Linked DNA regions of Homo sapiens: region 2 is linked to region 1. The links come from fine-mapping of genetic effects on gene expression. A gene starts in region 1. The other region holds a variant in brackets. All regions are shown on one strand. Distances are from middle to middle.

The links. PIP is the estimated chance that this variant, and not a neighbour inherited with it, causes the effect.
Region 2: its variant is the best candidate, but not a certain one, in a credible set for the expression of H2BC21 in whole blood (INTERVAL, PIP 0.77).

Annotation. Positions count from the first base shown.
Region 1 is chr1:149,884,468-149,889,467 of GRCh38, reverse strand. It overlaps H2BC21 (H2B clustered histone 21), which reads left to right and starts at 2,786. Exons shown (of 1, transcript NM_003528.3): 1 at 2,786-5,000. The coding sequence starts at 2,828. The coding sequence ends at 3,208. It overlaps H2AC20 (H2A clustered histone 20), which reads right to left and starts at 2,550. Exons shown (of 1, transcript NM_003517.3): 1 at 2,057-2,550. The coding sequence starts at 2,493. The coding sequence ends at 2,104. H2AC21 (H2A clustered histone 21) reads left to right here and starts at 1,503. Exons shown (of 1, transcript NM_175065.3): 1 at 1,503-1,999. The coding sequence starts at 1,552. The coding sequence ends at 1,944. RefSeq lists enhancers at 693-812, 615-1,209, 1,433-1,722, 1,743-1,882, 2,293-2,352 and 6 more.
Region 2 is chr1:149,762,349-149,767,871 of GRCh38, reverse strand. All of the region lies in intron 2 of LOC105371406 (a long non-coding RNA gene), which reads right to left. Among named protein-coding and RNA genes, the nearest start is that of FCGR1A, 18 kb to the left of the region's middle. The variant G/C (reference allele first, on the strand shown) is at 2,359.

The sequences.
Region 1 (5,000 bases):
GGGTGGGTGGGGGCGGGGTGGAGGAGGCGGTGGTGGAGGTTGCAGTGAGCTGAGATAGTGCTCCAGCCTGGGTGACAGAGGAAATTCCGCCTCAAAAAACGAACAAAAAACCCACAAGTCTATTTTTTCTCTCTAGCATTCTACCTGACCTTAAGGGATACTAAGGAAAGGGTGAGAATGGTGTAGGAGATGTAGAACTCCCAGAGATGGGACGTTGAGGAGGAAGAAACACAAGAGCTTTCAGGTTCATCTGTTATATGGGATAAAAGAAAAAAAGGAGAGCTTTCAGGAAAGATTTCTAAGACCGCTGGAGTCATGCCAGCGATTAGTGCCTGACGGCAAAATTACCCTTTCCCGGCTGTTGCTGAAATCTAAGGGATGATGATGAGGTGGACAAGGGAGCATGGAGAAAAAGTCTGAAGGGATGTTAAGGAAGCAACTGACTGGATATGCTAAGACGAAGGGAAGAGTAGAGTAGATTTCGGCTTAGGTATCTGTAAGTATGCTGGTGCATTTCAGGAAAAGAGGGCAAAGAGGGGAGGTTGTTTGTATGAGTTCGCGTTCGGATAGGCTGAGGTAGAGTTTGAGTTTGAGGTGCTCGTTGGGATAAGTAGGTTGAAGTATTCTGTAAGCAGTTAGGCATAAGGGTCTGAGCTTCTGAAACAAATTTGGACGTTAGTTGAAAGCATATAAATGGGTAAGACTCTTCGGGATAAGTGAAGAATTGGAGACAGGGAAACAGTCCAGCTGGACTCGCAGATTTAGAGATGGGCAGTGGCATGGGGGAGCAGGATAAGAAAAGTCGGCGAGGTAAGAAGAAAAACAGGGCGACATTTTGAAAGCCAAGGGAGCAAGTTTGAAGGCCGCCTCCTGGAGGTCAAGAGGAGGATGACAAATCTATTCTAGCCTCGGTCAAACCGGATTCCGAGGAGTGCAGGCGGGTGGGGGTGGGGCGGAGACACGCCGCTGCGGGCGACTTAAGTTTAGGGGCGAGAAAGGAGGCAGCCTTAGTAGTACATGTATTTTTAAAGGGAATTTGGCTGTGACGAGACAGAAAGGGCGGGACTTGGCAGTTTAGAGCTCAAGGGGATCATCGGCTTCAGAATCCCCTACTCTTTCGTGAGAGTAACTCTCCGTCTAAGGATGTCTTCTGCAGTTCCTTAGGGTCCATATTGGGATTTCCCGGCTGTAAACTAAACAAAGCAAAGCAAAACAAAACAAAAACCCACAGTGCCTCTCAGTAAAACAAAACCAGTATTTTGTTTGAAAGCCTGCTCTCTTTAAAGATCCTGGCATGCAAATAAGGGGCTTTAATGTGGCTCTCAGCGATTGGTAGATACTTACAAAATCCGTCATTTCCTTTCAGTGCAGGACGCAAACCAAGAGGCGGCTTTCTGCTTTTCTATTGGCTGTTAGATACGGCTCCGCTTTTAGCCAATCAAACGACTTCCCTTCACCCCTCCCGGTAGCTCTTATAAATTACATCAAATTGGTTATTCTTTCCACATTCTTCTCCTTGTAAAAGAAGCTGTAACTGCAATTTTAGCCGTAATGTCAGGACGCGGAAAGCAGGGAGGCAAGGCCCGCGCTAAGGCCAAGTCGCGCTCGTCCCGCGCTGGTCTCCAGTTCCCGGTGGGGCGAGTGCACCGCTTGCTGCGCAAAGGCAACTACGCGGAGCGGGTCGGGGCAGGCGCCCCGGTGTACCTGGCGGCGGTCCTCGAGTACCTGACCGCGGAAATTCTGGAGCTGGCGGGCAACGCGGCTCGGGACAACAAGAAGACGCGCATCATCCCTCGCCATCTGCAACTAGCCGTGAGGAATGACGAAGAGCTCAACAAGTTACTCGGGGGTGTCACCATTGCCCAGGGCGGCGTCTTGCCCAATATCCAGGCTGTCCTGTTGCCCAAGAAAACGGAGAGTCACAAGCCTGGCAAGAACAAGTAATTAAGAGGCTTGACACCATACTCATTCACCCCAAAGGCTCTTTTAAGAGCCACCAAAGTGTCAAATGAAGGGCTGATCACGAAATAGCGCATTAGCTCTTTTTTTGAAAACTTGGGTGGCTCTAAAAAGAGCCTTTGGTCTTGGTTTGTTTGTCTGCATTTATTTGCTTTTGGCTTTGTGGCTTTCGGTTTTCTTTGGTAACAGAACGGCCTGGATGTTAGGCAAAACGCCGCCCTGGGCGATGGTGACTTTGCCCAGCAGCTTGTTCAGTTCCTCGTCGTTGCGGATGGCCAGCTGGAGGTGACGAGGGATGATGCGCGTCTTCTTGTTGTCCCGAGCCGCGTTGCCCGCCAGCTCCAGGATCTCGGCGGTCAGGTACTCGAGGACCGCCGCCATGTAGACGGGCGCGCCGGCCCCCACCCGCTCCGCGTAGTTGCCTTTGCGCAGCAAGCGGTGCACTCGCCCTACCGGGAACTGGAGGCCAGCGCGGGACGAGCGCGACTTGGCCTTGGCGCGGGCCTTGCCTCCTTGTTTGCCACGACCAGACATGACTGAAATCAAGGTTAAACACAGACAACGCTCAGAACCTCGCAACAAAATAAGATTGAAAGAGAACCAAGAGGAAAGCCTTTATAAGCTTTCCTAGGGGTGGGGTCAAGAACGAGTTTTTCATTGGTCCTAATATGGCTTCAGAACCGGCCAATCAAGTCAAGAGTCGGTGTTGTTACGTACGCATTGCTGAAAACGCAAGGTCCGCACACGGACCAATGGAAATGAACGACTTTCGGAGCCCTAATTTGCATAAGGTGGTTATAAAAGAATCAGGCCCGCCCATTCTCTTACTTCTTTTCTTGGCTAAGCCGCGTTTGTACTGTGTCTTACCATGCCTGAACCGGCAAAATCCGCTCCGGCCCCTAAAAAGGGCTCCAAGAAAGCCGTCACCAAAGCCCAGAAGAAAGACGGCAAGAAGCGCAAGCGCAGCCGCAAAGAGAGCTACTCCATCTACGTGTACAAGGTGCTGAAGCAGGTCCACCCCGACACCGGCATCTCGTCCAAGGCCATGGGCATCATGAACTCCTTCGTCAACGACATCTTCGAGCGCATCGCGGGAGAGGCTTCCCGCCTGGCGCACTACAACAAGCGCTCCACCATCACATCCCGCGAGATCCAGACGGCCGTGCGCCTGCTGCTGCCCGGCGAGCTGGCCAAGCACGCCGTGTCCGAGGGCACCAAGGCGGTCACCAAGTACACCAGCTCCAAGTGAGTCCCTGCCGGGACCTGGCGCTCGCTCGCTCGAGTCGCCGGCTGCTTGACTCCAAAGGCTCTTTTCAGAGCCACCCACCTAATCACTAGAAAAGAGCTTGTTCACTTATTCCCTTAGTTTCTTTTCATAAAGTAAGTTATTTTAGTGTGAAGGTCATGGGAAATGGCATACGTAGCTTTTTAACTATTTGGAACTCGAGGTCCCCAGTGCGTCATTGGATTTGCTTTTGAATCTAGAGCGTGTCTTTACTCATTGTGCTGCTTAGCCTTCCCAGGAGTCGGTTCTCAATTAGGCTGTTGGGAATCCGCCTCTTTACCCGCCCCCACTCCCGCCCCACACGCGCCCTGGTGGCTCCTTGGGTCTGTTTCATTCTAAAACGAAGTGGCTGAGTTCGGCTGTCATTTAAGAGAACTCCAGGACACAATTCAGCCCGGGTTCCGCAAACACTGCGTGACAGCTCTGTATGACTGACGCTTGGCAGCAGCTTTTGTGTCCGGTCACCAGTTCTGCCGTGCGATGGGGCCTCCTGTGGATACCAGCCGTTCTGTGTATTTTGGACGAAGGCCGCGCAGCCGGGTCCCAGCCTTGTCCTGATTGGGCGACAAGAATATTCAAAATTCTGCGCCTTTTTCTAATTTGTAGATTTCAGTTTCCGTCGTTCACTTTGAGACTTTGAAATTCCTATTTCTCATTTTGTTGATAATTTCTGCATTTAATGGTCTGTGCTTTAAATGGTAACGCTACGGCCCCAGGTCACTGCGAGGCACTTACCATGTAGATACGGGCTCAAAAGTCACCTCTCAGAGACCTACGTCATCCACTCAGGAATTCGCGCCTCTCATACTTGCCTGTCTCATTTTATCTTCCTTCTAGCAGCTGTCTGAAATTGGTTCGTCTGTTTTCTTGTTTATGGTATTCTCAAGCCCTTGACAGACCGGCTAGTGTGGTTTTCCCGTGCATCTTCAGCCTGGCACATTATGGACACTTAAATACTACGTATTGATCTAATATTGTTGGGTTAATTTTTCCATCCCACCCTTTTCTTAATCGCTTCCGTGGATGGATGAAGGGTGCTGTTCATTTCCATTAGATGTATGTGAAGGCACAGTGAAAATGGAAATGTTCTTGGAGCTACTTCCTCAAAATGTATCCTTAGTCACCTCAGTGCAACAGCTGGGAGGGGGCCGTGTTAAGATTTTTTTTGCTACAAAGAGGAGGTGGCAATGGTAGATCCACCCTTATGCTTCTCAGTTTAGCATAACCTCTTATGGATTTTCATCAAATTCAGCGTGTTGGTCACTGGAAAGAGCCTTTTCCTTCTCCTTTTCTTACTCTCCCCTCATGGTGTTCCCCTCTTAAAGGAGAGGAGCTTTTAATTTACACTTACCACCTCATTTGCTTTTCTGGAGGCCATGCAATATAGGCGGGACTACAGAGTTAATCTCCTTTTTACAAATGAGGCCAAGAGAAGCCTCATTGGTTCACAGTCATGCAGCTCATACTGTCCACCCTTGTATTCTCAGATGCAGGACAATTGCATTTTAGTTTTATTTTGTGGAGGTGCAGAATATTTACTCTTTCTGTCCAACCCTTGATTCTGCCGAGGAAGACACTGATGGTTTGATGAGTGATTCAGCTGTTTTTGGCTAAGGGCTTTTGGAGCTGATGGCAGGGGTTTGATGAATCCAAATGAGCTCTAGACATTATCACAGACTGAATAGATCTTAACTGTCTCCTACATGTGTGTTTTCAAATGTGTATAGATGCTATTGTTATTAATAAAGTTACCAAT
Region 2 (5,523 bases), 120 kb after region 1:
TACAGCAGATTGAAGAGTCATAGAAGATGCAACCCTCTCATTCACTTTGCTTGGCATGTGTATGAAAAACAGTATTTTGGGTTCATCTAAATATGTCATTGATTTGGTTTGGCTGTGTCCTCACCCAAATCTCATCTTCAACTGTAGCTCCCATAATCCCCACATGTCATGGGAGGGACCCAGTGGGAGGTAGGTGAATCATGGGGCCAGTTACCTTCATGCTGTTCTCATGATAGTGAATGATTCTCACGAGATCTGATGGTTTTATAAGGGGTTTTTCCCCCACTTCGCTCTGTACTTCTTGCTGCTGCCATGTGAAGAAGGACACGTTTGCTTCCCATTCCACCGCGATTGTAAGTTTCCTGGGGTATCCCTGGCCATGCAGAACTGTGAGTCAATTAAACCTCTTTCCTTTATAAATTACCCAGTCTCAGGTATGTCTTTATTAGCAGTGTGAGAATGGACTAATACAGTAAATTGGTACTGGGTAGTGGGGCACTGCTGTAAAGATACTTGAAAATGTAGAAGCAACTTTGGAACTGGGTAACAGGCAGAGGTTGAAACAGTTTGGAGGGCTCAGAAGAAGACAGGAAGATGTGGGAACGTTTGGAACTTCCTAGAGACTTGTTGAATGGCTTTGACCAAAATGCTGATAGTGATATGGACAATAAAGTCCAGGCTGAGGTGGTCTCAGATGGAAATGGTAACTAGTTGGGAACTAGAGGAAAGGTCTCTTGTTATGCTTTAGCAAAGAGACTGGCAGCATTTTACCCCCTGCTCTAGAGATCTGTGGAATTCTGAACTTGAGAGAGATGATTTAGAGTGTCTGGTAGACGAAATTTCTAAGCAGCAAAGCGTTCAAGAGGTGACAGAGCATAAAAATTTGGAAAATTTGCAGCCTATGTGGTAGAAAAGAAAAACCTGTTTTCTAGGGAGAAATTCAAGCTGGCTGCAGAAATTTGCATAAGTAATGAGGAACCAAATGTTAATCGCCAAGACAGTGGGGAAAAGGTCTTCAGGGCATGTCAGAGACCTCCCTGCTGTGTACAGCCTAGGAACTTGGTGCACTGTGTCCCAGCCACTCCAACCATGGCTACAAGGGGCCAAGGTACACCTTGAGTCATGACTTCAGCGGGTGCGAGCCCCAAGCCTTGGCAGCTTTCACATGGTGTTGGTCCTGCAGGTGTGCAGAGGACAAGATCTGAGGTTTGGGAACCTAGATTTCAGGGGATGTGTGGAAATGCCTGGATGCCCAGGCAGAGGTGTGCTGCAAGGGCAGAGCCCTCATGGAGAACCTCTGCTAGGGCAGTGCAGAAGGGATATGTGGGGTTGGAGCCCCGACACAGAGTCCCCACTGGGACACTTCCTAGTAAAGCTGTGAGAAGAGGGCCACCATCCTCTAGACCCCAGGATAGTAAAACCACTGACAGCTTGCACCATGCACCTGGAAAAGACTCAGACACTCAATGCCAGCTGTGAAAGCTGCCAGGAAGAGGGCTGTACCCTGCAAAGTCACAGGGTCAGAGCTGCCCAACATCATGGGAGCCCACCTCTTGCATCAGTGTGATCTGGATTTGAGACATGGAGTCAAAGGATATTATTTTGGAGCTTAAGGATTTAATTACTGCCCTATTGAATTTTGGACTTGCCTGGGGCCTGTAGCTCCTTTGTTTTGGCCAATCTCTCCCATTTGCAGTGGCTGTATTTACCCAATGCCTGTACTCTCATTGTATCAAGGAAGTAACTAACTTGCTTTTGATTTTACAGGCTCATAGACAGAAGGGACTTGCCTTTGGATGAGATTTTGGACTTGGACTTTTGAGCTAATTATGGGATGAGTTAAAATTTTGGGGGACTTTTGGGAAGGTATGATTGTGTTTTAAAATGTGAGGACATGAGATTTGGGAGGGGCCAGGGCAGAATGATATGGTTTTGCTGTGTCCCCACCCAAATCACATTTTGAATTGTAGTTCCCATAATCCCCACATAATGAGAGGGACCCAGTGGGAGGTAATTGAATTGTGGGGGTGGTTTCCCCCATGCTGTTCTCATGATAGTGAGTTCTCACGAGATCTGATGGTTTTATAAGGGACTTTTCCCCGCTTTTGCTCTGCATTTCTCCTTGCTGCTGCCATGTGAAGAGGGATGTATTTGCATCTCCTTCTGTCATGATTGTAAGTTTCCTGAGGGCTCCCCAGCCATGCTGAACTGTGAGTTAATCAAGTCTCTTTTCTTTTTAAATTACCTAGTCTCAGGTATGTCTTTATTAGCAGTGTGAGAACAGACTAATACAGTCATGCAATTCAAAGTTGTTTCACACAATATTCTCTGACTACAAATGGTCATGTCAGGTAAATT[G/C]GTGAGTAGTACTGTGTGTCATTCAGGGTCTAAAAGGAAAATGGGCTGGGCATGGTGGCTCACACCTGTAATCTCAACACTTTGAGATGCCAAAATGGGAGGATCACTTGAATCTAGTAGTTTAAGATTAGCCTGGGAAAAAGAGTGAGACACTGTGTCTAAAAAAAATAAAAATTAGCTGGGCATGGTGGCACACTCACTTGAGCCCAGGAGTTTAAGGCTTCAGTGAGCTATGATTGCACCACAGCACTTGAGTCTGGGTAACAGAGCAAGACCCTGTCTCAAAAAAAAAAAAAAAAAAAAAAAATAGAAAATGAACAGTATACCAGAGGGAATTTAACACAAGGAATTATACAGGTATTGGAGGTCTAAGAAGGCAAAAGGGGAACTGATGTAACACAGAGATAGTAAGTGTAGAAAGCGAAGCAGTGATCAACCCTAGGGTTGTAGAAACAAAGGTAAAATGGTTGGGTTGTTAGAACTTGGTAACTTGGATGAAGGGCCACACATAACTGGGAGGATGGCTTCTGAGAAGGAGGTTGCTGGTGGCCTTGGAACTCAGAGGAAGTACCTAGTGTCGCAGGGACTCAGATCTCTGAAGAAGAGGTGTCCACTGGCTGATGCTCATGCCTTTGAGAGGGGGCCATGAGGCTGGCTCCGGGATTGTAAGAAAGGAAAAGAAATGAAACTGGAAACAATGACCACTCTCAGAGTAAAAAATTATGGCTGGGATGATGCTAATTGAAACAAGAAACAAAATAGGAAGCAGCCAGACCTATATCCCTCCTCCAGCCTTTCAGTCTCTTTTTAACACCCCTTACTGACAGAAACTAATAAAGCCAGCAAGCAAAAAAAAGATGTGGTTTGCAGAGTCCTCACCTTAGCATCAAAAAGCAGATTACAGAGGGTGGGCCCCTCTTTGGCCACTTCCCTACATGCTCATTCATACACATCCTCCTACATAGTGTCTGCTTGAAACCATGATGTCAAAATATAATTTCTTATAGCATGTTTATTTATTTTGGGGTGACAAATCATTATAATAAAAAAGGAGTTGTCCAAAAAGTGACATAGCTTTATAATAGCCATTATGGCAAAAAGTCATTAATTGAACAGTCATTACATGAGGGGATCAGGAACTAAAAATCAACGCTCATTATGGTCATAATGTAAAGAAACATCACAGGAAATCATATATATCCACCATTCATGAATAGAGGAAGTCTGATACCTAAGAACAGGAACTGGTCCAAAGGGGTAACCTGGAGCTGTATCTTTTTAAAGACAAAACACCCTCCTCCAGGCTTAACAGAGCTTGAAGTGTGAGAACCAGGAAAAGAGGAGTCAATCTCTGGGAACTTAGCTAATATCTACTTTCATGGACACCCCTACAGTCTAACTTTCATTCATTCATTTAACTATTATATGTTGAGTACATAAAATGTTCTAGGCACTAGAGTGGTGAATGAGACTTAATCCATGCTCTGATGGAACTGATTCTTTTTCTTTTTCCTCGCCCAGGTTGGAGTGCAGTGGTGTGATCTCGGCTTATTGCAACCTCTGCCTCCCTGGTTCAAGCGTTTATTGTGTCTCAGTCTCCTGCGTAGCTGGGATCACAGGTGTGCATCACCATGCCCAGCTAATTTTTTTATTTGTAGTAGAGATGGGGTTTCACCATGTTGGCCAGGCTGGTCTCAAACTCCTGGCCTCAAGTGATCCATTCACCTGGGCCTTCCAAAGTGCTGGGATTATAGGCGTAAGCTACTGTGCCCAGCCAGAATTTACTCTTTAGTGGGTGATTACAACAATTAACAGGTAAAAAGTAAATATATAAAGCTTAAATAAAGATATCAAGAAGTAGTAGGTACTACAAAAGAAAATAAACAGAAAAATGAACGGAGAATAGAAATTTAAACTAACCAGTAATAAGGGAGATGCAAGTCAAGACAATTAAATGTCTTTTTCACTTCCCAGATTGGTAAAAGTATAAATTATTGATAATAGCACCTTGTAAAGGATGAAATAAAATGGATATTTTCATACACTGTCAGTAGGAGTAAATTGGCAAAGCGTTTCGGGGGATATTATTTAGTAGTATAGAAACAAATTTGAATTTGGCACATTAGGTTAATATATTAAGTTGAATCATATGAAATTGCCAATATTTGACAAATTTTGGCCTAAAAAATGAACTTGAAAATAGATCAAATGAAATTATCCACACTGAAACACTAAAAGGAAAAAGAGTAAAATGTTTTCGAAATTTCAAGAACATACTGGTCAAAAGGGAACTGAACCAAACCACAATTTATTTTTCTTTTTGGTAGCTCCAAAATGAAAGAGGCTGTCTGTTATCCACTGGTTAGATAAAGTAAGCATTTCCCTTCTACACAGGCGATGAGGGGATGGGTCAGATAATTTCAGTTGTTCCTTTTATCTGGTTTTTCTATCTCCTGAGAGAGCATCCTTCCTTTTCTGATTCTCAATCCATGTACATAACTCATCTGAGGGATCTTTATAAGCTTGTAAGTCATAGACTTGACTCTTTCCTTTCAAAGTCCAAGTATTTTATTATGTGTGATGTCTCTGGAGTCTATTTGCCACCTAAAAATTGAGAATATGGTCCCAAGCCATCATTTCTGGATATCATTTGAAGCAGGAAATGTGACAACCATTCAAATAGGAAACAATGACAATGACCATTCCCAGAGTCAACATTAGATAATGCATGGACCTGTTGCATGGGATTTATGATGGTCAGGGGTGACCGAAATCAGGTTTCTTGGGTTCCCTCAGTCTAAGATGTCCTTCCAGTTGGAAGGGATCCCCAAATCATTCTACGGTATGGTCACAACCACAAAAGCACCTCTAGGATAAAAAGTGGTGGATAATTTCTCTACACTTCCTCGAAGTTCTGAGTAAGTCTCATCCTGTCCTTTTGAGTTTGAGTCACTTTGGCAGCATAGTCACTTTCCTGTGCTGACTTAGATCCTTTTATTTAAATCCCTGTTCCTGTCACTTGAAGGTGCTTGATGGAAACTGAAGCCCTTTGTTTATTAATTCCATGTGACCTGTTCTTTAGTGGGTAGTTAAACATTTCAAGGACACTGAAAAATACCAAAATACCAAAGAGTGTGCTGTCAGTTGTAGAGGAAACTAGGCTAT